Regions from separate parts of the Homo sapiens genome. Here all the other regions are linked to region 1. The links come from fine-mapping of genetic effects on gene expression. A gene starts in region 1. Each other region holds a variant in brackets. All regions are shown on one strand. Distances are between the middles of the regions. Region 1 holds the start of ZNF423 (zinc finger protein 423). Region 2 overlaps ZNF423 (zinc finger protein 423). Region 3 overlaps ZNF423 (zinc finger protein 423).

What was found. PIP is the estimated chance that this variant, and not a neighbour inherited with it, causes the effect.
Region 2: its variant is fine-mapped to the expression of ZNF423 in testis (GTEx, PIP above 0.99).
Region 3: its variant is fine-mapped to the expression of ZNF423 in sigmoid colon (GTEx, PIP above 0.99).

What each region holds. Positions count from the first base shown.
Region 1 is chr16:49,852,697-49,860,871 of GRCh38, forward strand. It overlaps ZNF423 (zinc finger protein 423), which reads right to left and starts at 3,416. Exons shown (of 8, transcript NM_001379286.1): 1 at 3,039-3,416. The coding sequence starts at 3,078. RefSeq lists a silencer at 2,660-2,919.
Region 2 is chr16:49,644,910-49,653,084 of GRCh38, forward strand. The region is part of intron 3 of ZNF423 (zinc finger protein 423); the gene reads right to left. Among named protein-coding and RNA genes, the nearest start is that of LINC02179, 180 kb to the left of the region's middle. RefSeq lists an enhancer at 3,114-4,313. The variant C/T (reference allele first, on the strand shown) is at 4,309.
Region 3 is chr16:49,729,142-49,737,316 of GRCh38, forward strand. ZNF423 (zinc finger protein 423) reads right to left here. Exons shown (of 8, transcript NM_001379286.1): 3 at 1,630-1,830. Among named protein-coding and RNA genes, the nearest start is that of ZNF423, 120 kb to the right of the region's middle. The variant G/A (reference allele first, on the strand shown) is at 3,720.

The DNA.
Region 1 (8,175 bases):
CTTTAGGGTTGTTTTTTTTTAAATAAAATTACAAGGCTTCTGAAAACCAATGAGGCTATTCTCCCCCCTCCCCTAGTGCCCCAACCCCCTTCCCTATTTACTAGGTGTCCTCCCTGTGAGCTGGGTTTTCCAAAGAAGGACAAACACACTGCGGGGACAAGGGACCCCACTCCAGAAGGGAGGTTGTGTCCGTGAGTGGGAAGTGAGACCACCCCAGCCCCCAGAGGCCAGTTTTATTTTCAAAGCAGCAATGCCTGTGCTTTCAAATCACACTTTCTGAGCATCCATTCGAAATTGTTGTATTTCTGTCTTTCCTTCCTGCTATGGACTTTCACATTTCCGAGATCAACTACAAATTACAGTCAAGCGACTTTCACAGCAGAATGCTCGGGGCCGGGGAAGTCCACAAAGCCTCTACATTAGCCCTGACACACAGCAGTGGAGGCAAAATAAAATAAAATAAAATGTAAAAGACACCGCTGTTCCTTAAGAAGCACTTTCAAGCATCTTTAAAGGTGAAGACCTTGTCGTTTCAAACACTTGGTGTGGAGCTGTCCACACTCAAGCACACACTTTTGAATATTGCTTAAGAGAAGGGGCGGGGCGGGGGGGGAGCAGTTCTTGAAAAGCAATAAATCCCTCACCTGCTGGAACTCTTATCTATCCAAATTATCTTCTCTCTTAATTCCTCCCTTGATAAGTGGCCACATCTCCACCCTCTTCACCCCAGTAAACAGAATAAAAGGTAAAATGGTGAGAGACAAGGGTTGTAGCTGCTTTTGGAAAATGCAAAAAGCCATGGGAAGAATCAGGGGGTCTCTGACTCTGCGGACAGAAAGGCTCTGTGTGGCTGATATTTACAACACCGAGTCTCGAAATGCCTCCACTGGTCTCCTGTTCACCTTGCTGCCTTTCTCCTACCAACCTGCTTGAACTGTCTGCTACACATACACACATACACATTTGAGAGAGGCACTCACTAAAAATCATTTCAAGGCTCATTTCATGAAAGGCTGAAGACCAATTCTTGAGTCCTTCTCAGAGATCCACAGAGTGGTTTTAGAACTCGGTTCAAGCAACTTTGAAACACCCACCCATCTGTTCACTGCAAACTGCTCTCCTTTTGCTTTCTGGGTCTCGCCGTCTAACGTAAGGAGGTTTGGAGAAGTGGATTGGAAGTCTAGGTAAGCAAGCTTTGCAAACTCAAAATCAACTGCCTGAGTTAAATAAAACTGTTTTTCCAACCAGAAATTCCAATTCCACATTTTCTTCTGGGTCGCCTCTTAAGTGGCTCCTGAAGGAGTGAGCAGTGAGCCAGGGAAAGAGAAAAGAAATCCAGTATTATTTCAAGCCGTACAGCCCTTCCATCAGCAAAAGAGAAACATCCACCCTTCTTTCCCGTCCTCTTCTTGGAGTCTCTCTTCTGGTTTCCCTGTCCCCCAATCAGAACACCCTCTGAACCCCCAGTTCTGTGGAGCAGGCCAGGCTGTCCCGGATTGGGAGACCAGCCAGGGTGAGGCGAACAAGACCAACTTCTCTCAGGGAAAAGGAGGAGTAGGAACGGGCCGGGCGCTCCGTTTGGACTCAGTTGGTCTCCTTCTAATATGACGGGGAGGATCTCTGCTGGGCCGGGGGCAGTCCCTCCGGGGACTTCAGGAGGACAGAACTGACGAGTGTCTCAAGATCCTCCTTGCCAGATTCAGTTCCAGCCATTCCAGCCAGGCGCAAGGCTGGCAGGAAGGGAGCGGGGCCCCAGCGCCTTCCCGCGCAGGCCTCCAGGAAATGAACTTTTCAGAGCAGAACTGGGCTCAGGCCAGAGGTCATCAGGGGAGATGGGAGAAGACAAGGGCCTGGGGGCTTTTGGCTCCGTAGACTTAGCCGCTCTCATCGTTCCCCCCTTCCTCGATCATCTCCCATCTCACAGCCGAGCGCCCGGGCACCCAACCGAGGGGCTAGAATCGGGACAAAGCAGCAGGCAAGGCCTGGAAAGGCCAGCCGCGGGGAGAGGAGGCCAGGGGAGGGGCTCTGCTGCCGGCGCGCGGCCTTTCCCCGGGGCCTCTACTCTCCAGGGGTCCCCTCGAGCTGGGGGCCCTCGCTGGAAATAGAAAGCAAAGCGTGGAGACGAAGGGATGGGTGTGTGTATCTATATATCTGCAGCTCCCCACAAACGCGCGCACCCCGGGGAGCCAGCACAGAAAGCCGGCCTGGGTGTCGAGGGTGCCGGTGCCCGGGGTCAGATCCAGGGTGCCGGTGCCCGGGGTCAGATCCGGGGCGCCCTCCGCGGAGGGGCGCGCACCGCGGCCGCTGAGCTCCCCTGAGGACCTGCGTCCCGCCGGCGCCGTGCAGACAATGAACTCCTGGCGGAGGCTCCCTGCCCGGTGGGCCTCGGTGGAGGAGGCAGGAAGTGCAGGGGCCCGGGCCGGGAGAAGGCCTGGGCAGGGGCGGGAGGGGGCGCCAGGCGGCCGGGGCGAGGGCGCGGCGCCCGGGGCGCTCGCCGACAGCGCCCGCCGCTCCCCGCGTCCTCGGGCGACCAGGCAGGGGCCAGAGAGAGCCAGCGAGGCCCGGGGCCAGCGAGGAGCGGTCGGCCTGCCGGGCGCCCGTCCTCGCCGCCTCTTCCTTCCTCCTGTCGCCCGCCCGCCGCCGCCGAGATTCGCAATCCCCGCCAAGTCGGGCCAGCACCCCTTGATTGGCCACACGGGCCCGGGCCCCGCACGGAGGGAGCGGCAAGGGCCCCTTAGCGGCGCCCCCAGGCCTGGGTCCCCCAAGGGCGACGGCGCCGAGTCCGGGCAGGGAGGGTGTCCGCGGCGTACCCCCTCCGCCGCCGCCGCCGCCGCCGCCGCCTCCGCCTCCTGCTCCCGGCTTCCTCCTCCCCCTCCTCCGCCTCCGCCTCCGCCTCCGCCTCCTCTGCCGCCTCCTCCTCCTCCTCTCGGCTCGCTCGCGCGGGTCCCCGGCAGCCAGCCCGCTCGCCGGTCCCTCCTCCCTCGCTCCCTCCCTCCTCGCTCGCTCGCTCGCGCCTCCGCCGGGCCTCGCTCGCTCACCTTTCACCGAGCGCGGCTTCGCCTGCTTCCGCCTGGACATGTCCGGGGCTCCGGGCGCTCCGTCGCCCTCCGCAGCCGGCTCCCCCCGCCGCCCCCCGCCGCTCCGGGCAGCCCTTCTCCCCCTTCTCCTCCGCCTGTCTCTTGGAAACTTTTTTTTTTGCAGCCCGGTTGGCGGCTGTGGGGAGCGGACCGCAGGTCCGGGGCGGCCTCCCTTGGGGGGGCAGCCCGGGCCGGCCGAGGCCGCTCGAAGGCGGGGGGAGGCCCGGGGGGCGCGCCGGGGCCCTGCCTGTTGCAATGCGGCAGTCCGGGGCTCCCGATCCAAGCGGCGGTCCCAGCGGCGCGGGGAGTCCGGAGGCCACTCGGCCGAGCCGAGTTATGCAAAAAAAAAAAAAAAAAAAAAAAAAAAAAAGCCGCCCCCCTCCTCCTCCCAACCCCCCGCCGGCCCCCGGCCCCTGCGGCCCCCTCCTTCCCTCCCCCACCCTACCGCCACCCTCACCCTCCTCCTCCTTCTCCTCCTCCTCCGCCCCTTGCCGGATTTTTGTGCAAAGTTTGCAGGCGTCCGGCCACGCAGCCCGGTGCGGAGCTCACAATGAACCCATCTGAGGAGGGGGAACGGGGCTGGAGTCGAGGGTATCTCAAGGGGGGAGGAGACCGGGAGGCGGTCGGGAGCGCGGAAGCTCAGTACCCCCCAGGAAAAAAAAAAAAAAGAAGCCTTCGAATTATCCCCTGCCGCACAAAAAAAAATAATAAATATTAATGGCTCAAAAATGCCCAAGCGCCTGGTTTGGAGATTATGATGGATGGGGGGCGGGGGTCCCTCAACTCAGCCTACTTGGAGGGGAGGCTCGAAACGGCCGCAGTGGCTCGGAAGCCGCGGCTCGGGGCCCCTGGCTCACGCCCCCTTCTCTGGCTCTCGGATCGGCCCGGCGCCGGCCCCCCGGAGGAGGAAGGGGCGCGCGGGGGCGCTCAGGCGGCGGCCGGCAGGCGCGCCCGTGCCCCGGGCATCGCTCAGCCCGTGCGCCGGGCCGCCGCTGCCTGCCCTCGGGCTGCGGTGCTCAGCGCGAGGCGCGCAGCCGATCCCCAGGCCGGTGCCAAGTCGCCGGCCCCGCTAGCTGCCTCCATGGGCCAGGGGCTCGGAGAGGGGGGAGGCGGCGGCCGCGGTGGCGGAAGAGGAGGACGAGCAGGCGGCGGCGGCGGCGGCCGGGCTCCCGTCCTCCTGGGCAGCGGCGGCGGCGGCTGCGCCCCGGCTCCTCCGCGCTCCAGCCGGCGCCGGCCCGCCCGCCAGCCTCCCTCGCGCTCCTGTCTTCTTTGTGGTCGCTGGCTCTCCTCCTCCCGATCCGGCTGCTGGGGCTGCACTGCAGAGACACATAATAAAGCCAGGCTTGGCTGGAAATGTAGCCGGGTCCCAGCAGGAGGATGTGAGGAGCGGAGTCCCGGCGGGGGAGCGCTCTGATCCCGTGGGGCGCCCCGCACTGCTCCGGCTCGGATCAGACGGAGAGAGGGCCAACAGCACCGAGCGATGGACAGCGCTGGAAATACAGCTCCGGCCGCCCGCAAAACCCGGACCGTGGTGGCGGCGGCGGCGGCGGCGGCAGGCACGGCGCGGGCGCGGGCACCGCACCAGCACGCGGGGCCGGGGCTCGGGCGCTGGCTGCACCGGGGGCAGGAGGAGGGAACACACTTAGGGCCCACGCGGCTGTCAAGCTCGCCAAGACGCATGAGCCTCACAAACTGTAAAAAGTGAAAGAATGGGGGAGCAAACGGAGTTGGGCTGCCCTAGTATTGCCACCTCGCGATGTATGCCTCACGCACATGAACTATCCAGGGACCTGGCTCTGCCAGGTTGGCTTTTGCCCACCGGTCGGTGTTCAAAGACCACCCCTGCCCCACATCCAACAAATTCTTCCACCACTGGGCTAACCCCGTGCGCCCCCTACACCCTTATTTGTAGAATTCTCGCGCCTGGTGTGCACTTCCTCTGTCCGACTGTAAAAGGAACACCTTACCCCTGAGACCTTGCAGGAGCACCCCCTCCCCGCGCAGTTGTCAGAAGAAATAAACCAGCTGCTACTTTCTGCGAGGTTTTACCCAGCCGCCAGGGGGCGCCGCGCGTCCCCCGCAGCTCCTGAACCGGCTGAGACTCTGGTCTCCGGGCAGGCCCGGGAAGGGTTCTGACTTGGGAAAAGTCTTCCCCAGACGGCTCCCCTAAACCGTTCCTCGGAGCCTCTCCCTCCCCAACTAGCTGCAGGCGGCCAGGTCTCGGGTGGGGAGCGGCCCCGACCTCGCCCCCCTCCCGGGTGAGTGGCGCCACCTTGGGCCGGCGCGCCCCGGAGCCAGGAGAACGGAGCGGGTGCACGGCGCGGCGCTGGGGGTTATCAATCTCTCGGATCGATAAGTTGCCACTTGGAGAGGGGAGGGCTACGTCCCCTCGGAGACGAGTTACCCAGGGCAACCTTTCACGGAAAAACCCGCTGCCCGCCGAGAACAGCGCCGGGGCCGGCCGGGCCGCGGCGCCCGCCCCACGCAGGGTGCCCGCGCCCCGCCGCTCCCCAGCCTGCCGGCCAGCCGGGCCCGGCCCCGCTCAGCTCTCTCCGCGGTCCCGCCGGGCCCTGCTCGCCAACCCCGTGCTGGGCTGATTGCCGAGGTAGATGCCACCCACGCACCCCCGCGGCTGGGGAGCGCGAGCTGGAGGATGCGGAGAGGCCTGAGGCAGGGGGGCCAGGCGCGCGCGCCCTAGGCAGTCTCAGAGGTAGAGTCGGGTGACGGGCTAAACGCGACGCCTAGCTGGACACCCTGACAGCGGCAGCGGGCGAGCGAGGCTCCCCAGAGGGGCGGAGGCCAGGACCGAGACGTCCCCTAACTAGACCTAAGCCTTGAGGGCCGCCCCTCCCCAGGTTAGCGCTACCATCCCCAGGCCACAGTCCTCCCCAGCTTGTGCGTCCAAGAGTGTCCAACATCTCGGCCTTCCCGGAGGGAATAGGAGCCCCCCCCCCCACGCCCCCGCGGCCCAGGGATGGACGGAGTTGGGCTGAACCGGGGGTGCCAAGGGCCGAGGCGAGGGCAGGGGCCGCGAGGCGCCTGGGAAGGAGCCAGGAAGGAGGGGCAGAATCAGCCGCTCCCCCACCCCCGCCGGCGCCTGGGATCGAGGCCCGCGGAGAGTGGCTGACAGGCGGCAGATGGCACACGCTGGGGGAGGGGGACGATTGGCCTCGGCTCTGGGGTGCCCCCGCCGCGGGCTGCCTCTGCTAGAGGTAGGGGGCGGGGAACGGCCCCCAGCTCGCCCGCCCAGGCTTTCTGGGGGGCTGGAGATTGCGGATCCTGCCCAGCCGGGAGTCTGGAGAGTGAGGGGGCGGACAAAAGGAGCGCGGTGGGGAATGCGTGTGCGGGACGAAAGAGGGGCCGTCGGGGGAGAGGGGTGGTTGGAGTCCCACGGGGCTGCCCTTTTCCACCCCTAGGGGCCTGCTGAAGACTGAGGACGGAGGTGGGGGCAACAGGATGGGGAGCCCGCAATAGCCCATCCTGACCTAATCCGAAAGGACGAGATCCTGGAGCCGCTCACAAAGTTTTCCGGGCCCCCTCCCACGCGTCGCCTGCACGTATGTCCGTTTCCCGACGCTCCGCCCTCCCCCGCCAAGTTCGGCGTCTCCCAGCTCAGCGGCAGTCAGGGTGCAGAGGGAGCCCGACCTTGTCCCCGCCTCGGCCCGTCCCGCTTCTTCTGAAGCTTGTTTCATTTTTAACTCCTTCCAGAAAAATGTTGTTTTAAGGAAAATCTCAAAGGAACAAAAAGCCAATAGTGCCTTCCTTATTTGCAATCCCCACCCACCTCTGAGCTCGGACTGCAAGGGCCTCAAGGGACACCAGGTGACACCTGGGCCTTGCTTCTCACGGGTGACCTTGGACCAGAAAGGGTCATTTTCAGGTGTGTTTTATACCCCCCACCTGCCTACTTCTGGCAGGGAATAGGGGGTCCAGTCCCCTCCCCTATGAGAAGGGGCCCCTCTGGGCTCTCCTTCTTCGCCGGAAAGTGAACAGCTGCTCCTGCCCTGCTTGGAGGAGTGGCTGTGGAAACCCACTGTAAGCTGTAAGGAGCAGGAGCCACCATCATAAATGCAAGAGAAATTCCAAGTTGAGGTTTTTGAGAACAAGTAAGACTTTGCCCACAAAAAGGTGCATCTTCCTTCAAAGTCATAACTTGGCTGGAAGAGGGGAAACCTCTTGCCCAAGGCGGTGCCTTCCCCAACCATGCTCCTTAAGAATGTTTTTCCTACATGTGCAGCAACTGAGGCTTCTTCCTTGAATTTTCAAGAGGCAGGCGTCATTTTGAGCAGTCTGGTGAATGCACGAGGGTCTGGTGGGCTACAAAAACAAGATAGGACAATAAAGAAAACAAGGCAGTGTTCACTTTGTGGCCTCAGACCTATGATCCCTGCAGAGCTCCCAGAGTTGCTCAAGGGATGCTTTCCAGTAAGTGACCAAATGCCCACCTTGGCCAGGTGCCGTGGCTCACACCTGTAATCCCAGCGCTTTGGGAAGATGAAACGGATGGATCACCTGCTAGGGAGGCCCTGGCTTATGCCTGTCATCCCAGCACTTTGGGAGGCTGAGATGGGTGGATCATCTGAGGTCATGAGTTCGAGACCAGCCCCAGCAACATGTTGAAACCCTGTCTCTACTAAAAATACAAAAATTATCTGGGCATGGTGGCACGTGCCTTGGTGGCATATACCTGTAGTCCCAGCTACTCGAGAGACTGAGGCATGACAATCACTTGAACCTGGGAGGCCGAGGTTGCAGTGAGCTGAGATCATGCCACTGCACTCCAGCCTGGGTGACAAAGTAAGACTCCATCTCAAAAAAAAAAAAAAAGAAAAGAAAAAGAAAAAACAAATGCCCACCTTTTCCCCTTCCAGGCACACACACATCACTTACTTTAAATGACAACAGTCACTTGAATATATACGATCTGGAATGAGTGGTTTTTGTTTACTGCTTTATTACTTGAAACTCCCAGTCCCTACTGTGGAGAATTTGCATCAGCCTATGAGGAGCAGTCATTTTGGGGAGGGATGATTTATCCCTTCAGCTTTTCCCCAGAGAATAAGTTCACTGCTTTGTTCCTGTGTTTATTCAACATTTA
Region 2 (8,175 bases), 210 kb before region 1:
AACGGGCAGAGAGTCCATCAGGAGGCTGGGCCTCCACTGCCTCTGCTGGCTCATGGGAAGCTGGAATTCATGCTCTCTATAGCCCCTGCCATATGAATATAAAGATCACCTTGTACAATACTCCAACCATCAAGACCATCTTCATGATAGACACAAAATGGCCTTACAGTGCTTCACAAAGTCCCCAAAAAGACTCCTTGCCACTCAACTGTTTCTTCAGAAAAATGAAAATTGCCAAGGAGACCAGTTCCCGACAGGACAAAGCTTTGTAATACACCAAGCAGAGCTTCTCTGCTGCCCCCATACAGAGCTCCAAGAATAGGAATCACTGTGGCCCTTCCCTAAGCTCAGAGGAATGGGACCCTAGACTCAGGAACCAACTACCCAATCCCACATGATACAGATGGAAAAGCTGAGGCCCAGAAAAGAGAAGAAAACTTACAAGCCCAGCTAATTGGTAGTGGTTGCCTAGAATCCTGTGTTCAGAAGGATTCCAAGGCCTTATCTCAGGTCCAAAGAAATGAGTGCTGCAATCAACTGATGATGTCTGCCATGAGCAGAGACATGTAGGAATGGAATAGTCAAAGGGCACTGAGCAAACTGGAAAGAGGAGTCTCCTGACTCCCAATGCTAGATGCTTTTCAGGTTTCCTCTTCCAAAAAAGGAGCTGTCCATTCTCTTTGAGAGATGAGGCTTTGGTGTTCCCAAAATCCTGTTGGTCACAGAGAGACAAGAGGCCCTGACAGATACCGTATGATATGGTTTGGCTGTGTCCTCACCCAAATCTCATCTTGAATTGTAGTTCCCATAATCCCCACTTGTGGTGGGAGGGACCTGGTGGGAGGTAACTGAATCATGGGGGTGGTTTCCCCCATGCTATTCTAGCGATAGTGAGTAAGTTCTCATGAGATCTGATGGTTGTATTAAGGGGCTTCCCTCTTTGCTCAGCTCTCATTCTTCTCCTTCCTGCCACCATGTGAAGAAGGACATGTTTGTTTCCCCTTCCAACATGATTGTTAGTTTCCTGAGGCCTTCCCAGCCATGCACAACTGTGAGTCAATTAAACCTCTTTCCTTCATAAATTACCCAGTCTTGGGTATTTATTCACAGCAGCATGAGAATGAACTAATATACTGTAGAACTGTGTTGGAGTCTGGAGAGGAATCTCCAGCCAGATAGGTCAGCTGTGACATCAGCTGATGGTGAGGATTGCCCAAAGTGGACACAAAGCAGCCCGGACAACCGAGGAGAGCCAGTCAGTGTTTCCTAGAGCCTGGGGTAATAAGAGCTGCAAGACCTGAATATGCTTCAGGGCACACTGTAGATTGTGGTTCCCACAGAGGTAGCCAGAGCCTAAGCAGGTGGCTTTCCAGACACGAAATGATCCAAATTGAGCTCAAGGGGCATCTGGGCATATTCCTGATCACTTCTTGGGAAACCAGGGGTACTTGCACACACCTGATGCCAGAACTAGCCATCCATCCCAGAATACTCCTCAACTCAATTACATCCCTGCCTGTAAAACTAGCATCAGTGTATTGAGGGCAAGAGAGGGTGCATAGCTCCTCCCTCATCTTATTTCACTGATGGAGAAACTGAGGCAACATGACAAGTCACAGGCAGATCCAGTGGTTACTGTTTATGGCACATTTTCTTTTCTTTTTCTTTTTTTTTTTTTTGAGAAGGAGTCTCGCTCTGTCACCCAGGCTGGAGTGCAGTGGCACGATCTTGGCTTCCTGCCACCTCTGCCTCCTGGGTTCAAGCAATTCTCTGCCTCGGTAGGAATCCTGAGTAGCTGGGATTACAGGCACCCACCACCACACCCGGCTAATATTTGTATTTTTAGTAGAGACAAGGTTTCACCATCTTAGTCAGGCTGGTCTTGAACTCCTGACCTTGCGATCCACCTGCCTTGGCCTCCCAAAGTGCTGGGATCACAGGCGTGAGCCACCACGCCCAGCTGTATGACACATTTTCTATGTGCCAGGTCCTTTGCCAGCTTTTTCTCAATTGATTCTCACACATTCCCTATGAGGTAGGTACTATTAACAACCCCTTTTTATAACTGTGCAAAGTGACACTCCAAGAAGGAAAGTAACTTCTGAGCGCACAGACATTGCAAGTGGCAGATGCCCCCACCCACTTACTAACCACCAGGCTACACTGCTTCACCAGGCCCTGGAGCCAGTCCAAGGCCCATATCCCTGCTGGACCTGCTCCCTCTTTCTTGAGGTCCACCATGCACAAGCACAGTACCAGGCCCCGTGACTTGAACCAGGTACAGGTCTTAAGCTTTACAACCCCACCTGCCATTGAGGCAAAGTCAGTGGTGGATGACCAGGCTAGGCTGGGTCTGATGCCAAGCACTAATGAATGTTGCTGGCCTCTTTCCTCACTGGATGGCAGGTAAAGTAGCCTGCTGCTTAAATAGCCTATGCAGAAGCAAACCTGGAGATTGTGGTAGGCAGAATAATAATTACCCCAAAGATGTCCAAGTCTTAACTTCCAAAACATATGAATATGTTACGTTACATGGTAAAATGGAATTAAGGTTGACAATTGGCTGACCTTAAAATAAAGAGATTATCCTGGATTATCCACATGGGTCTGTTGTAATCACAAGGGTCCTTAAATGTGCAGGAGGGAGGCAGAAGAGGAGGTTGAGGTGATGCAATATGAGAAGGACCCAACCAGCAATTACTAGTATTGAAGATGGAAGGAGGCCATATGCCAAGAAATGTGAGCAGCCTCTAAGAACTGGAAAGGCAAGGAAATGGATTTTTCCCTAAGAGCATCCAGAAAGGAATGCGGCCCTGCCAACACCTTAATTTTAACCCAGTGACATCTGGGTCAGACTTCTGACCTACAGAACTCTAAGATACTATTTTTTGTTTGTTGTTTTAAGCCACTGTGCTTATGGTAATTTGTTACAGCAGTAATAGCAAACTAATACAGATTTTGGTACCAGGAGTGGGGTGCTATGAGAACAAATACCTAAAATCATGGAAGTGGCTCTGGAATTGGGCAGCGATCAGAGGGTAGAAGAATTTTGAGGAGTATGATTTATTTAAAAGCCTAGGTAACCTTGAACAGATTAATGGAAACATAGATATTAATGACTCTGTTAATAAAGACTCAGAAGAAAGTAAGGAACACATCAGAGAAAACCTAAATCACTTTAGGAAATATCTAAATCATCATGAACAGACTATTAAGAGAAATATGGATATTAATAAAGGCACTGACAGTGAAACTGAAGGAAGGGGGATCCTTGATACTTGGTGGCAGAAAGCTAAGTGAAATTATGACTCACAGTTATGTGGGAAGCAGAACTTTCATGGATAAACTTGGATACTTAGCTAAGTAGATTTCCAAGCAAACTGTGGAAGGTATGGGCTGGTTTCTTCTTGCTGCTAAAAAGAAAAAAGATTAAGAAAAGAACTGTTAAGCAGGCCAGGCGCAGTGCTCACGCCTGTAATCCCAGCACTTTGGGAGGCTGAGGCAGGCGGATCACCTGAGGTCGGGAGTTCGAGACCAGCCTGACCAACATGGAGAAACCCCGTCTCTACTAAAAATACAAAAATTAGCTGGGCATGGTGGCACATGCCTGTAATTCCAGGTACTCCCAGCTATTCAGGAGGCTGAGGCAGGAGAATCGCTTGAACCCAGAAGGTGGAGGTTGTGGTGAGCCAAGATCATGCCACTGCACTCCAGCCTGGGTGACAGAGCAAGACTCCATCTCAAAAAAAAAAGAAAAAAGAAAAAAAAAACTCTAAGAGATTTACTTACAAGAAAGCATGCTCCGGAGAAAAAGCTGAAGGTAGGACTGCACATATTGCTAATATCTCAGGAAAATCAAAATGCCAGAGTATTGAGTATTCAGTCACAACAAAGGCTCTTTGGTGAGATTAAGGGTGTGACTCACAGATCTCCTAGATCAAATTAGAGAGCATCTAGGAAATTTGGGGGTATTGCTCTGGAGCAATCTCAGCAAAAGACAAAAGTAGAGAAGGGATTATCCAGGAAATATCTGTAGAGGACCATCTTGAATAATGGAGAAAATACCCATGACATACACAGGAGACTCACAAGGTTCTTGAAAAGTTTATACTGACAGAAACACTGCCAGCTTAAACCAAAAAGGACAGAGAGAGTACAGGATGAAAGAAGTCTGTTGGACACCCAAAACTTCACAAGCAGGAAACAGGTTAATAAAACTACTCAGATGAAAGTACATGCTACCTTTCATGGGGAAAAAAGGGATGACTAAGCGGGCAGAACCTCAAGCCCAGAGGGTGGAGCCATGAG[C/T]CATAGTGGATGAGATCACTACTGGACCAGGTTCAGATTCCAGAACTGTGTAACCATGGGCAAGCATATCCCCTCTTTGTGCTTTCATTTCCCCATCTCTTGATAGAGAGAATCCGACGAACAGGTCTCTAAGAGGCTTTGTAGCTCTTACAGTCTGTTATCACTTAATGATGTCTGTGCCTGCCCTGGGTACAGAGTAAGTCTCAGGTGGTAGGTATCCCAGCTCTCTACTATCTCCTAGTTCGGGTGGTTTTTTAATTCAGCACATATTTAGGATGCCTGCTCTAAATATCCAGTTTTCCAAAGGGTGTAGAGGTACCCAGCATTCTTAGGTTTCTATGCTCTTATCTGTCCAATCTCCGTGTCAATTAATTACTGTTTAAACATTAAACACTAAAGAAACCCTTTACTGCTTTGAAGTACACACACACACACACACACACACACACACAGGGAGAGAGAGAGAGAGAGAGAGAATCCCTTCAATTGTAACATCAGTACTGCACCTAGATATCTGACAGGAGAAGTGTAAAGGATTAAGTTTGACCCCTGGGACATCAAAAGTCCACCCTGGGAAAGGAAAGGGATGAGGCTATTGGAGGTTCTTTCCTCAGAGGTAAGCCAAGGAGCTCCACAAAGGTGACCAGAAGCTGACATGGCTCTTCCTGAAATCTCGAGTTAGAATTATGCTATTAGCAAAAATAATAGCAGCACCTATTCACTCATTCCTCCTCCAGGGAGCTGAGAGTTTCTTACGAATGGGATCTCATCATCCCCAAAGTATAAGCAAGGAAAAGTAGGGATCATTCCTTCGGTTTGGGAGAAAAAAGACTCAGAGGTCACTGGACATCTCAAAGACAGAGACTGACCAGGCCTGCCCTTCTCCAGCCAGCTCTGGGGGCTGCTGAAATGCCATGTGACAGTGAACAGCTGCCACCAAGGCCCTTAACAAAACTTCCAGGGACTCAAAACTTAGCTTAGGCTGCTAAGCTTGAAGAAACTCAGTCAATTGCAGGGAGACGTCAGCCCTGAGGGACAGCAGAGCCATGAGTAAGAGTGTGCACTGGCTTGCTCAGCCATCATTAGCTGTGAGACCATGGGAAAATTACTGCCCCTCTCTGAGTGCCCATGTCCTGGGGAAACTAAAAGTAACTACCTTACAAAGTGGTTAATGTTTACATACTGCTAAACATTGGATGAACATTGGCTAAATAAGATAAAGGGGTTCCTAATGTAACTGACACTATTATCATTCATCGTAAATCCCATAATCTACAGGGCATTTAACATTTTGCGCAGCACCTCACACCCATTATCCATTTGACATCTGGAGCAACTCTGTGCAGTGGTGGTGGTCATGGTGGTTTTGTTATTGTTATTATCCCCATATTACGAGTAAGTGGGGGGCCACACACCCAGGCATCCTGGGATGGAACCCAGCATCCCATTCAGTTAGTGAATCCCTCTCACCCTCATAAACAGCTGAGCTTACACAGTAAGTTGTGTGGTCACCCCAGTAATGAGGAAAAAGAACAGAGAGGTTAGGTCACATCCTGACATCACAAAGTGACTGGAAGAGCTAGGCCTGAACTTCCAACCCAGGGCTCTTAGCCAGCTGGACTGGGAGAAATGATGCCCTGAGCAATGGGTCATAGGTCATCATGGCTGTCCTCCCACTGGACAGTCTGGGGGCCACCCAGTTATCAGTATTAGTGATTTTGTGAAAATGCCAACATTTACAAATCAAGAATTCCCAACTTTTTGTTGTTGTTGTTCCTTAATTCACAGTCACTTTTGGCTTTTTTTTTTTCTTTTTTCTTAGAGACAGGGTCTCCCTCTGTCACCTAGGCTGTAGTGCAGTGATGCAATCATGGCTCACTGCAGACTCAACCTCCTGGGCTCAAGCGATCCTCCTGCCTCAGCTTCCCAAGTAGCTGGGACCACAGGTGCGTGCCACCATGCCTGGCTAATTTTAATTTTTTTTTTTTTGTAGAGACAGGGTCTCTCTATGTTGCACAGGCTGGTCTCAAACTCCTGGCCTCAAGGGATCCTCCTGCCTCAGCCTCCCAAAGCACTGGGATTACAGTCATAAGCCACCACGCCTGGCCCACTTACGGTTTTTCTTGAAGGAGAAGAAGGCCTGGGAGCACAGACTCTGCATCTGGCATGTGGAAGATGGAGCTCAGCTGGGGCTTCTTGGAGGAGGGACCCCCACCCCCCTGCATGCCCAGCACCCCAGGACTTCCCTCACCATTAGGGGGTGTCCCGGGCCTTGGAGACATCTGTGTTTGCCTGGTGGCTGAGAGCCGGCAGCAGGGCTTAGACTCCCAGCTCCCCCACTTACTATGTGTGTGACCTTAGCCAAGTGAATGACCCTTGCTCAATTTTACAGATGGAGAAACCTGTCTCAGTTTTCACATCTGTAAAATGGGGATGACTATTTATAGACCCAACTATAGAGTTGTTTTAAAGATGAAATCAGTGAATATCTGTAAGGCGTTATATATGACAAATGTTCTATAATGCCTAAAATAGTCACTGGCTACTGGCTCCCAAATCACCATAAGGTGGTCACAGGACAAGGAGAGGCTGGCAATGGCTGGAATGGTTTGAGGGGACACAAGACACAGTGTCACCTCCCTGAGCCCTGATTGATAACCAACAGGGTCTAAGCTAAACCTACAGTTACCCGTGCACAAGATGGTTTTCAAACAAAGCAAACTCAACCTGCCAAAATTCTCAGAGGGCCCCTGCCATTTACAATCCCAGGACATCAGCCCTGAAAGGAGCTTCAAGACCCCTCATTATACAGATGGAGCCCAACGCTCTCATTACACAAACAGAGAATCTAAGGTACTGGGAGCCATCCATGGCTTGGATGTGGGTCCCTCAGCTCATGGTGGAGGGGGTGGGGGATGAGGCTCAGACTCCCAGAACACTCCCTCCCCCGCCCCCACATGGCTGCTGGACATGCAGGGCAAGGACGCGTCCACCTTTCCCCTTGAAGCCTCTGACCTCGCAGAACACACAGCCTGCCAGGCAGCTCCATCCCTTAGACAAATTTACTTAGCACTGATATTGAAAATGCAATTGAGCTCGAGTTTTATTGCAGAAATTAAACAGACTAGGAAAGGGGAAAAAAAAAAAGCCAGTGCTCATCAGCTCACCCGAGAGCTGGCTGTGATCAAACTTGCTAAAGAGGAGCCTAGTGATCAACTCCTGCCAGCAAGGAAGAGCCCCCCAAGTCTGCCCCTACAAGGGACTCCCCAGGGGCACGAGGAGCTCAGGAGCTCCGGAAGGTTCTCCTGCCAGCCTCCTGGCGTGGACCTCCTGCGCACCCTGACATCGCCTGCCCGCCTCTTCACAAGGAGTTGGCGCCTTGTGAAGTCATCTCCGTGAGCTTCATGAAGCAACACCGCCAAGGGCCTGAGCAAAGGGCGCTCTGCTCCACTCGAGTGAAAGCAAAATGCTTTCGGGGTTGAATCACTGTTTTTCTTGACTCCCTTTGGAGATCGGCAGAGCCCACATTCGGCCGTGTTCGTGGACCTGGGACTGGAAACAGCTGCGCTCTAATTACATGTAAAGTGTACCAAAACATCCCTTTTATCACAGACTGGAAATCTGTTAGCATCTGCCTCTCCTTTGTTTCTTCCACAAGATACAAGCTTGTTTCTACATTTTTCTCACCTGTAGCAGTGATTAAAATTCATTATAAATGAAAGGAGTGAACAGAGAAACAAGTTCCTCTGTGTACCGTTCTAAACTCAAATTAGAAACAGCTGTTTGCTAATTCATGCAGTGATGTTTTGTCGTGCTCTGTGAATCAATAATAACTCACCCTATTGCTGCAGAAATTTTTGGATAATC
Region 3 (8,175 bases), 120 kb before region 1:
GCTTAGCAGAAGGTGTGGGGCCCTGCTCTAACAACTACACAGAATGGCCTATTCTCTTGCATTTAGAAAATAAAGAGAATAACTTTTCATTAGATCAATTAGTTGATTATAAAGTAAGTGGCAATATTTTATTCTCTTATAGTTAAGATTCCATGTTAATTCTTGGCTAAATCAAGAAATATACCAACATCTATAATATTATTCCTCAAGTAGGATGAGGGTCAATAGCTCAGTGTCCAGAGGAGGTCCTAGCTTGGCCACCAAACAGATATGTGACCCCGGCCAAGCAATCACCTTTTCCTCCCTTTGCCCTAGTATTTCCCTTGGGGAAGTGAGGAGACTTAAAAAGCTAACCTCATAGGTCCCTTCTAATTCTGATTTAGAATTGAAAATTAACCATCACCTCTGCCTCTGGTTGCAATATCACAAATTCCAAATGACTGGGGTTTGGATTACTGGGCCCCAAAATGTCCAAAACTGTAAGATTCCTCTTAGGTCTATTATTATTATTATTATTATTATTATTATTATTATTATTATTATTTTAAAAATATCTGTTCCTCCAGAGGTTGAGAATGGGAACTTGGTCTAGCCAGCCCTGTGCAGGCACAGATGTCACTAGAGGGCAAATCATAGCAGTTCCCCAAACACTTAATTTCAAAATTCCAAGATGATATGAGGAGTAGAAAAAGCAAGAGCTTTGGGTGCCAATCTAATCCCTACCAGTAAATGTTCCCCTCAACAAGTGATGGGTTCCCTTTAGAATGCAGGCCTGAGATTTCAGGCTTTCTTCCACAAACCAGTATCCAAGGAGCTTCATCAACAACCCTGATGGAAGAAGGTCTCTCAGGAAGACTGTGTAAGGAACACAGGTCCTATGGACTCCCTCTGCAGATCTCAGAGCCCAGAAATGTGTCATCCCTGTAGCATGGCTTCCACATCCCAGGGAATGCACATGCCCTCTGACTCCCCACCCCAATCACCCCAGACAAATACACATATACACACAAAACTCCTGAAGTCTTCAGTAGCTCCTAGAAAACTGGTCTTACACACCCTCTCCAAGGCACCAAGTAAATGGAGAACAGAGCTCCAGTCAAATCTAGCAGAAGCAGCTCCCAGCTACCCTTCTCCTCCTACTCAGAGAAGTGTGAGGTCAAGCACAGAGTTGGAAACAGGTCCCTTTTTCACGGGCTGTCCTTGGCCTTTGAAATTTCCTCATCCCATCAGAAGCTCTGCCTCGGAGCTTACTCCTTTATGCAGCTTTCCACACTTAAGCTGCTTAACTTTGCACTAACAACCTCTTAATTACTGCGTTTCCAAAAGGCCTTCCAGAAATTCAGGGTGCACATCCACCCATTCATGGCCTGAGTACCAGAGCACAGCTTGCGGGGAGAGGGGGCCGGGACAGAGCACCACCATCTAATTCCTGCCTGCCGGAAAGCTGTTGCTTTTATTTTTAATTGTATTTAAAAGGCGGATACAGGGTACCCAAGACACCACAATAAAATGACATTAACTGTAAAATTACATTATTAATTCTTTAATCTCACTTGAGGCTTCAAGCTGTTGCTATGTCCAATTACCCGTGTAACCACCTGTCAGAGTCCTGGGGCTGTTTTGCATTACCTCCAGGACAGCGGTGGGCCCGGTGGTCCGTCAGGTCTGCCAGAGACTCGAAGTCCTGCTGACAGTGATCGCAGGTGTAAATTGATTCATCCTCCATGTCTTCATCATCCTCATTTCTCTCCTCTTGACTTGTCACGCTGTTCCTGTCTTCCAGCGCACGGCTGGTTTTCTGATCGCACTCTGGCTCTCCTTCTAGGCCTCCTGCCAACAGGAAGAATACAGTCCATGTCAGCTGATGGGGTCTTGGGAAAGGGTTTTAAAAGAATCGCCCGGCATTTATTAAGATACATTTAATTACTCTACCTCCCGGGGTCCATTATCCTTGACACCTCTCAGTATATTAATAGATGGGGTTTTTTTGTAGCATGTGGTGCCATAATTCTCAACCAGATTCTTTAATTCTTGGTGCAAATCTTCTAGGGGGATTTCCTGTCATCTCCCCTCTGTGCACGGATGCTGGGGGCCGTGACCCATCGGAGAGGTGAAAAACCTTATTTGTCTCCTAAAAACCAGATTCAGTTACACACCTTTTTAAAGCCTCCATCAGCTGTTCCTAACACACCTAAACTTTTAGTTTTCCCCACAGCCTTGCAATTTAGAGCTGGGAGATCTCTTAGCCAAGTTCGCCTTCCACACAACAGGCCTCCCAGGGCAGTGACGTTGGCTCAGTTCTTTGCAAAGATGTCCAACTCTGAAATAAAGGAAGTACACATGTTTGAAGAACCATGGATGGTCGAATCTCAAGCTTAAAATGCATCCAGGCTGGGCATGGAATCTCACACCTATAATCCTAGCACTCTGAGAGACCAAGGTGGGAAAATTGCTGAAGGCCTGGAGTTTGAGACCGGCCTGGGCAATATAGCAAGACTCTATCTCTACAAAAAAAAAAAAATTTTTTTTTAATTAGCCTGGTATAGTGGTGTGTGCCTGTAGTTCTACCTACTCAGGAGGATTGCTAGAGACCAGGAGTTCGAGGTTACGGGGAACTATGATCGTGCCACTGTACTCCAGCCTGGGCCTGGACCCTATCTCTAAAAAATATAAAATAAAATAAATAGTGTCACCTGTGACCTGGTACAGGCCTAGACAGTTAGAATCAGTCGTGGAATGATCTCACTGATTTCTTTAAAATAAAACAGCTACTGTGCTTAGCACTGTGCAGAGAGTGGCTAATCTATAGGGAAAAGTGAATTCGTAATCATAATGATGCCTTGCAATTGTGCTGTGTTCCGTGCTTCTTCAAAGCCACCATTATATATGCACAGCCCCATTTCACAGTCTTGCATATCCTAAACTCAAAGAAGGCTCAAAGGATCATGTGATCCAACCCCCTGCAGAGAGGGACAGCTTTGTCTCACAGGTAAGGTACCTGGCATCCAACCAGAAGAAGCAACAGCCCAAGCACCCTACAGAGGCTCAGCTCAACTTCGTGACTCCTGGTCTAGTTCACTTCCCTGCACAACTGTGGGTAATGGAGCACAGCCCCAATCTTACAGATTAATAAGACACACCAGGAACTTGTAAATCAAAGTGCAAAAGCGTGTGGTAAATATAACCCACAGAATATATCAGTAATCCTAATAAATGTCAATGGATAAAATTTGTGTGTTAAAATGCAGAGACCCTCGGATTGGAAAATAAAAGTGTGTGTTGTCTCTTCCCACAGCCTGTCCTGGAAAACAGATTTACCCATCCGGAAACTAGCTGCACTGATTTAAATCAAAGAAAGAGATCTTATTATCCATAAAGGTGTTTTTGAAAGCATATGTACATATGCAAAAGTGCGTGTATGTGCACCTGTATGTACATGTGTGTACATGCAACATCACAGTTACAGGAAAAGGCTCAGTGCACAACCTGCAAACCCCTGAGGGCGGGCGCCAAAGCAAGAAAGACAGACACGAAGCAAAGAATGCACTCAATTCAAGGTGGAAACCACAGTCCTGTGAATATTTCAATTTGGAAACAGATAATGTTATAAGGGCTCTATTTCTCCTGTCTGCACAGAACATGCCCTTCCAAGCACCCGACATCAAGAACCTGGGAACACAAATCGGCTCATCGGAGAGCCAGCTGCTTCCTTCCAAGGC[G/A]GGGAACGTTGCACGACACGCCGCCTGGAACTGCGCGGAGGCAGTAAAAATCAATGTTTCCATTTGTGGCCCATCAAAACATCTCTCTTCTTACCAATTAAGGGATGTACAGTTTTTAGGTTCTTTTATTATCAGAACGCGCCAACTCCTGGCAATACAGAAATCCCATTAAAAGTCAGGCAGCATATTTATCTCAGGGAATCTGATCTGCCGCTGCAGTGAGGGTAAGAAATAGAAAGCAAAGAAATGAGAAATATCATTTGGAGCCTTCGATATTGTAAGTCATCATACAACCATGGTTACACAGTCAAGTGCCCGTCTCCGAAATTCCTCGTTTACAGTCTTTCCTTAATAAAAAAAAAATGTTCTGTAGAAAGGGAAAATAAAAGAGCCATAATTCTGGCTTTATCTACTACACCGACCCTCCAGATAATAAGTTACAATCAGCACCACACTTGTGCTACTTTACTTAACACACAATTTAATAGACATATTTAAATTATCCCCTCGTTATTTTTTTGCCGTATTTACTTGGCAGCACTTTCTATAATAGCTCATCTAATCCACAACTGGAACCACAAACATCACAATGTATTTGATCTCTTTAAATCTGGTACATCCTGTTGACTCGGGAGTAGATAAATCAGAATGTCAACTCTCAGGTTTTTATAAGGCAAAAACCCATAAAGTCATCCAAGAGTATAAATCTGTTTTAAGCAACTGTCACCTCCCCTATGGCCGGCTACTAATGGGAAGGGAGGGTGGCTGTGCAGAAAGGGATGGAGACGAAGGCGAGCTCAGGCCACACAAAGGCGCGGACCTCATCCTCTGGGCTCCCAAGGGGTCCCAGCCTGGCCCTCAGGGAGGTGACACAAGACAGGGAAGACTCAGGGGCCTGAAGAAGTTTTGGGGAGTGGGACTTCCCTGAAGACCCAAGGGCCCCTCTGCTGATTCAGCAGAATCAGGCGCTGGAGAACAGGAAGGCCTCCACCCCAGGCAGGGTTTGCCTCTTGCAATGCACTTTCATGCCCAGGAGTTTCTGAACCTCACCATAAGACAAAAGAATAAATGGTGTTATTTTTCCATTTGCAGATGAGAAAACTGAGCCTCTGCAAGGCCACCCAAAGCCATGCCAGGATCGAATCTACACGTTCACGTGTTCATTAAGCAGCACACCTTTCCTGAAGTCCCTGGGCCTGTTGGAGCCCCAAGCTCTCCAAGGCCCAGGAGGCAGAAGTTCTAACAACAGGGAGCTCCAAGGACATCAGACCTACCTGGAGACCGTCTGGGGTTCCTCTTTTCCAGGCCCACCTGATCGGTTGCTCAGTAAGTCCTGGGGATGGAATGATTGGACCTTCCCTACTCCTTCAACCCAGCTCCGCCTGTCCTGTGTGCTGCTCTGTCCAGCCCCAGAGGCCCCTCAACTGGTCCCTGTCCTGAGTCTGGACATCACCTGTGCAAACTCAGAGAACATAGGGCCCAGAGGCCCAGCACCTGGCCCTGCCTTGTGAGTCCCATCACAAGCGCTGGCTCATTTCAATGACCTGGGCTAGAACTGCAGCTCACTGGTTCCTCCAATCACCCCAGAGCCCAGTGAAGCAACTTCAACAGGCCGAGGAGAAGGCCAATGGCTCAATGCTTTTCTGCAGAGGCCTCCAGGGCTGGGGAGGGCTTCCCGAAAACAGCCGGCTGGCTCCTTTCCCTCTGGCTCCTCCCCTGTCCTCCTGGGGGCTGTCTGCAGCAGCATGAAGACAGCTCGCTCAGGGAAGGCCCGAGCCAAATGGATTTCAAATCAGGGACCTCTCCCTCAGGGCCATGTGCATGGGACAGAAACCGAACCAGTGCTGTGAACGCCGACCTGTCCGTCCAGCTGACAAGATTCCCTACCTCCCAGAGCTCATGCTTTCCACGATGGACAACTGTTTTCTGATGTGCACACCTGCATCCTTTTGCCCAGGCATGCCCCAAGAACAGTGAGCATTGATTAAGCACTCAATGCTTAATCAAGTGCAGGCACCTTATGAGTTGATGTCATCATATCCCCATTTTACAGGTGAGGAAAGCAGAGCTCTGGGAAGTGACAGAGCTTAAGTGAGGCCACAGAGAAGTGGTGGGGCTGAGTTTCAAGCCCACTGCATGTGACTCTTAACCACTCTACTACATGGTTTCCTCACAGTAAGACGCAATGAACACCTGAGCCAGGTGTTGGGAGTTTGTAAAACCCCTCAAAGTCCCATGTAGGGTCCTGGTCACAGCCCCTAAGGTTCAGCAACGGCTCTGCTGATCTCTCTCACTTATCGCCCATCTCCACAGCCTTGAAGGTCATCTTTCAACCCCATAAACTTCCAAGTCTCTTTGGTCCAGGGCTTCCCACTCCTGATCTCCAGCAGGAAGATTTCCGTTAAGTCTTCACACAGTTCCCAAAGATCTCCACCAGCCTGGGCACCTACGGAAGTTGGGGCCCCATTACTCTTTCCCCAGGGCTCTCTTCCCTTTGCAGTCAGAGCTCTCAGCATCACGTGCACTCATGCTTTTGTGGGCTAATTTGTCTACTTTCTCTCTCCCTTGGCAGGCTGCATTTTCCACAGACTGCCACAGCAATATCTCCCACCCCACCTGCCCTTCTGCAGGGAGACCTTGACTCCCTCATCATAACGAGGGACCGAATTCTCCTCCACAGTCCCCCTCGGGGCTGGCCAGACTCAGTGGCTCCTTGACCAACAGGATGCAACAGAAGTGCTATTCTAGACTTCTGAGGCTAGGTCAGAAGGAGGCTTGCAGCTTCCCCCTGCATCTCCTGGGACACTCCCCCTTCAAGCCCAGCAGCCATAATATATGAAGCCCAAGCCACATGGAGAGAGAGCACATAGGGGCTCCAGTCAACAGCTCCCAGCTTCCAGCACCGACTTCAGCCATGGGAGCACACCATCTTGGACATCCCACCCCAAGAAGCCTTTGGATGACAGCAGCTCCAAACACCATGCGGCTGCAACTGTACAAGAAACACCCAGTGAGACTGCCAGCTGAACCCAGTTAGCTCATAGTACTGTGAGAAGTAGTAATAAATTATTGCTTCAGGCCATTACATTTTGGGATGGTTTGTTACGTAGCAATGGATAGCCGACCTTCTCGCCCCACACCGGACTATAAGCTCCATGAGGGCAGGAGCTGTGTCTAATTTAGCTCAGTGCCACCTCCCCCAACCCTGGCATACAGAGGGACATATAGTAGGGGCTCAATAAATGTTGAATGAATGGATGAGTGAATTAATTGATTGGTTTCAAAAAAGCAGGCCTCTGAATCCCCACACAGGTAGAGGCAGAAGGAGGGGAAGGGGCCACAGTGCAGTTTATTGTCTGACGATAAGTATTAGATTGAATCATATAAAGGTGCCATTTTTTAGGTCAAAAAAGTTGAATATTGGCAATCTCAAATGGCTCAGCCTCACATATGACGAGGTTGCCCTGTCCTGCCAGCTTCTTCCTGCAGCCAGGAGGAAGAGGGTACACCCACACCAGGAAACCCCACTACACCACACCCACCCAAACCCAGCTTCCCTGAACCCAAGATATGGACTTGGGGGACATTCTATGAGCAAAGAGAGGCAATAACAAAACCTTTCACCTCAATCATGTTTCGCTGGAAAGCACTGAATTTTCAGGCCAGTCACAATGGCTTACGCCTGTAATCCTAGCACTTTAGGAGGATGAGACAGGAGAACCTATGGAGTTTGAGACCAGCCCAGGCAACACAGTGAGACCCCATCTTTACAAAAATTTTAAAAATCAGCCAGGCATGGTGGTGCACGCCTGTGGTCCTAGCTACTTGAGAGGCTGAAGCAGGAGGATCGTTTCAGCCCAGGAGTTGGAGGCTGCAGTGAGCCGTGTTCGCACCACTGCACTCCAGCCTGGATAACAGAGCAAGAGTCTCAAAAAATAAAGTAAAAGTAGTGAATTTTCCCACCTCACTGAGCTACTGCCCTTAAGAAAGGGCTTGCATTCAAGATGATGACGTTGAGAGCAGACAGCGGACCCTGCAGAAACGCTGTGCAGCAAGACAGATGGCCCCATGCCCTCTAGAGGGAAGGAGCAGCAGAGGCCTTGCCAGGGACAGAGGGCCTTGCCAGGGACAGAGGGAGGTGGCACAGCCTCCCCTACACCCTGAGGGGAGCTGAGTATGGTGTGAGCATCTCCTGGTACCATTTTACACTCACACTGCCCCATTTCGATGAGGACAGAAACTCTATGTGGTAGGTACAATGGATATCCCCATTCTGCAGGTAGGTGCAATGGACTCACCCACTTTGTCAATGAGGAAAAAAAAAAAACAAGGCTCAGGAGCCCATTCAAAGCACGTGCCAGGAAGGGCAGAGAGGAATTTGTATCCAGGTCTTCTGACTCTAGATCCTGACTCTTTTTTTTTTTTCCAAGACAGAGTTTCACTCTGTCACCCAGGC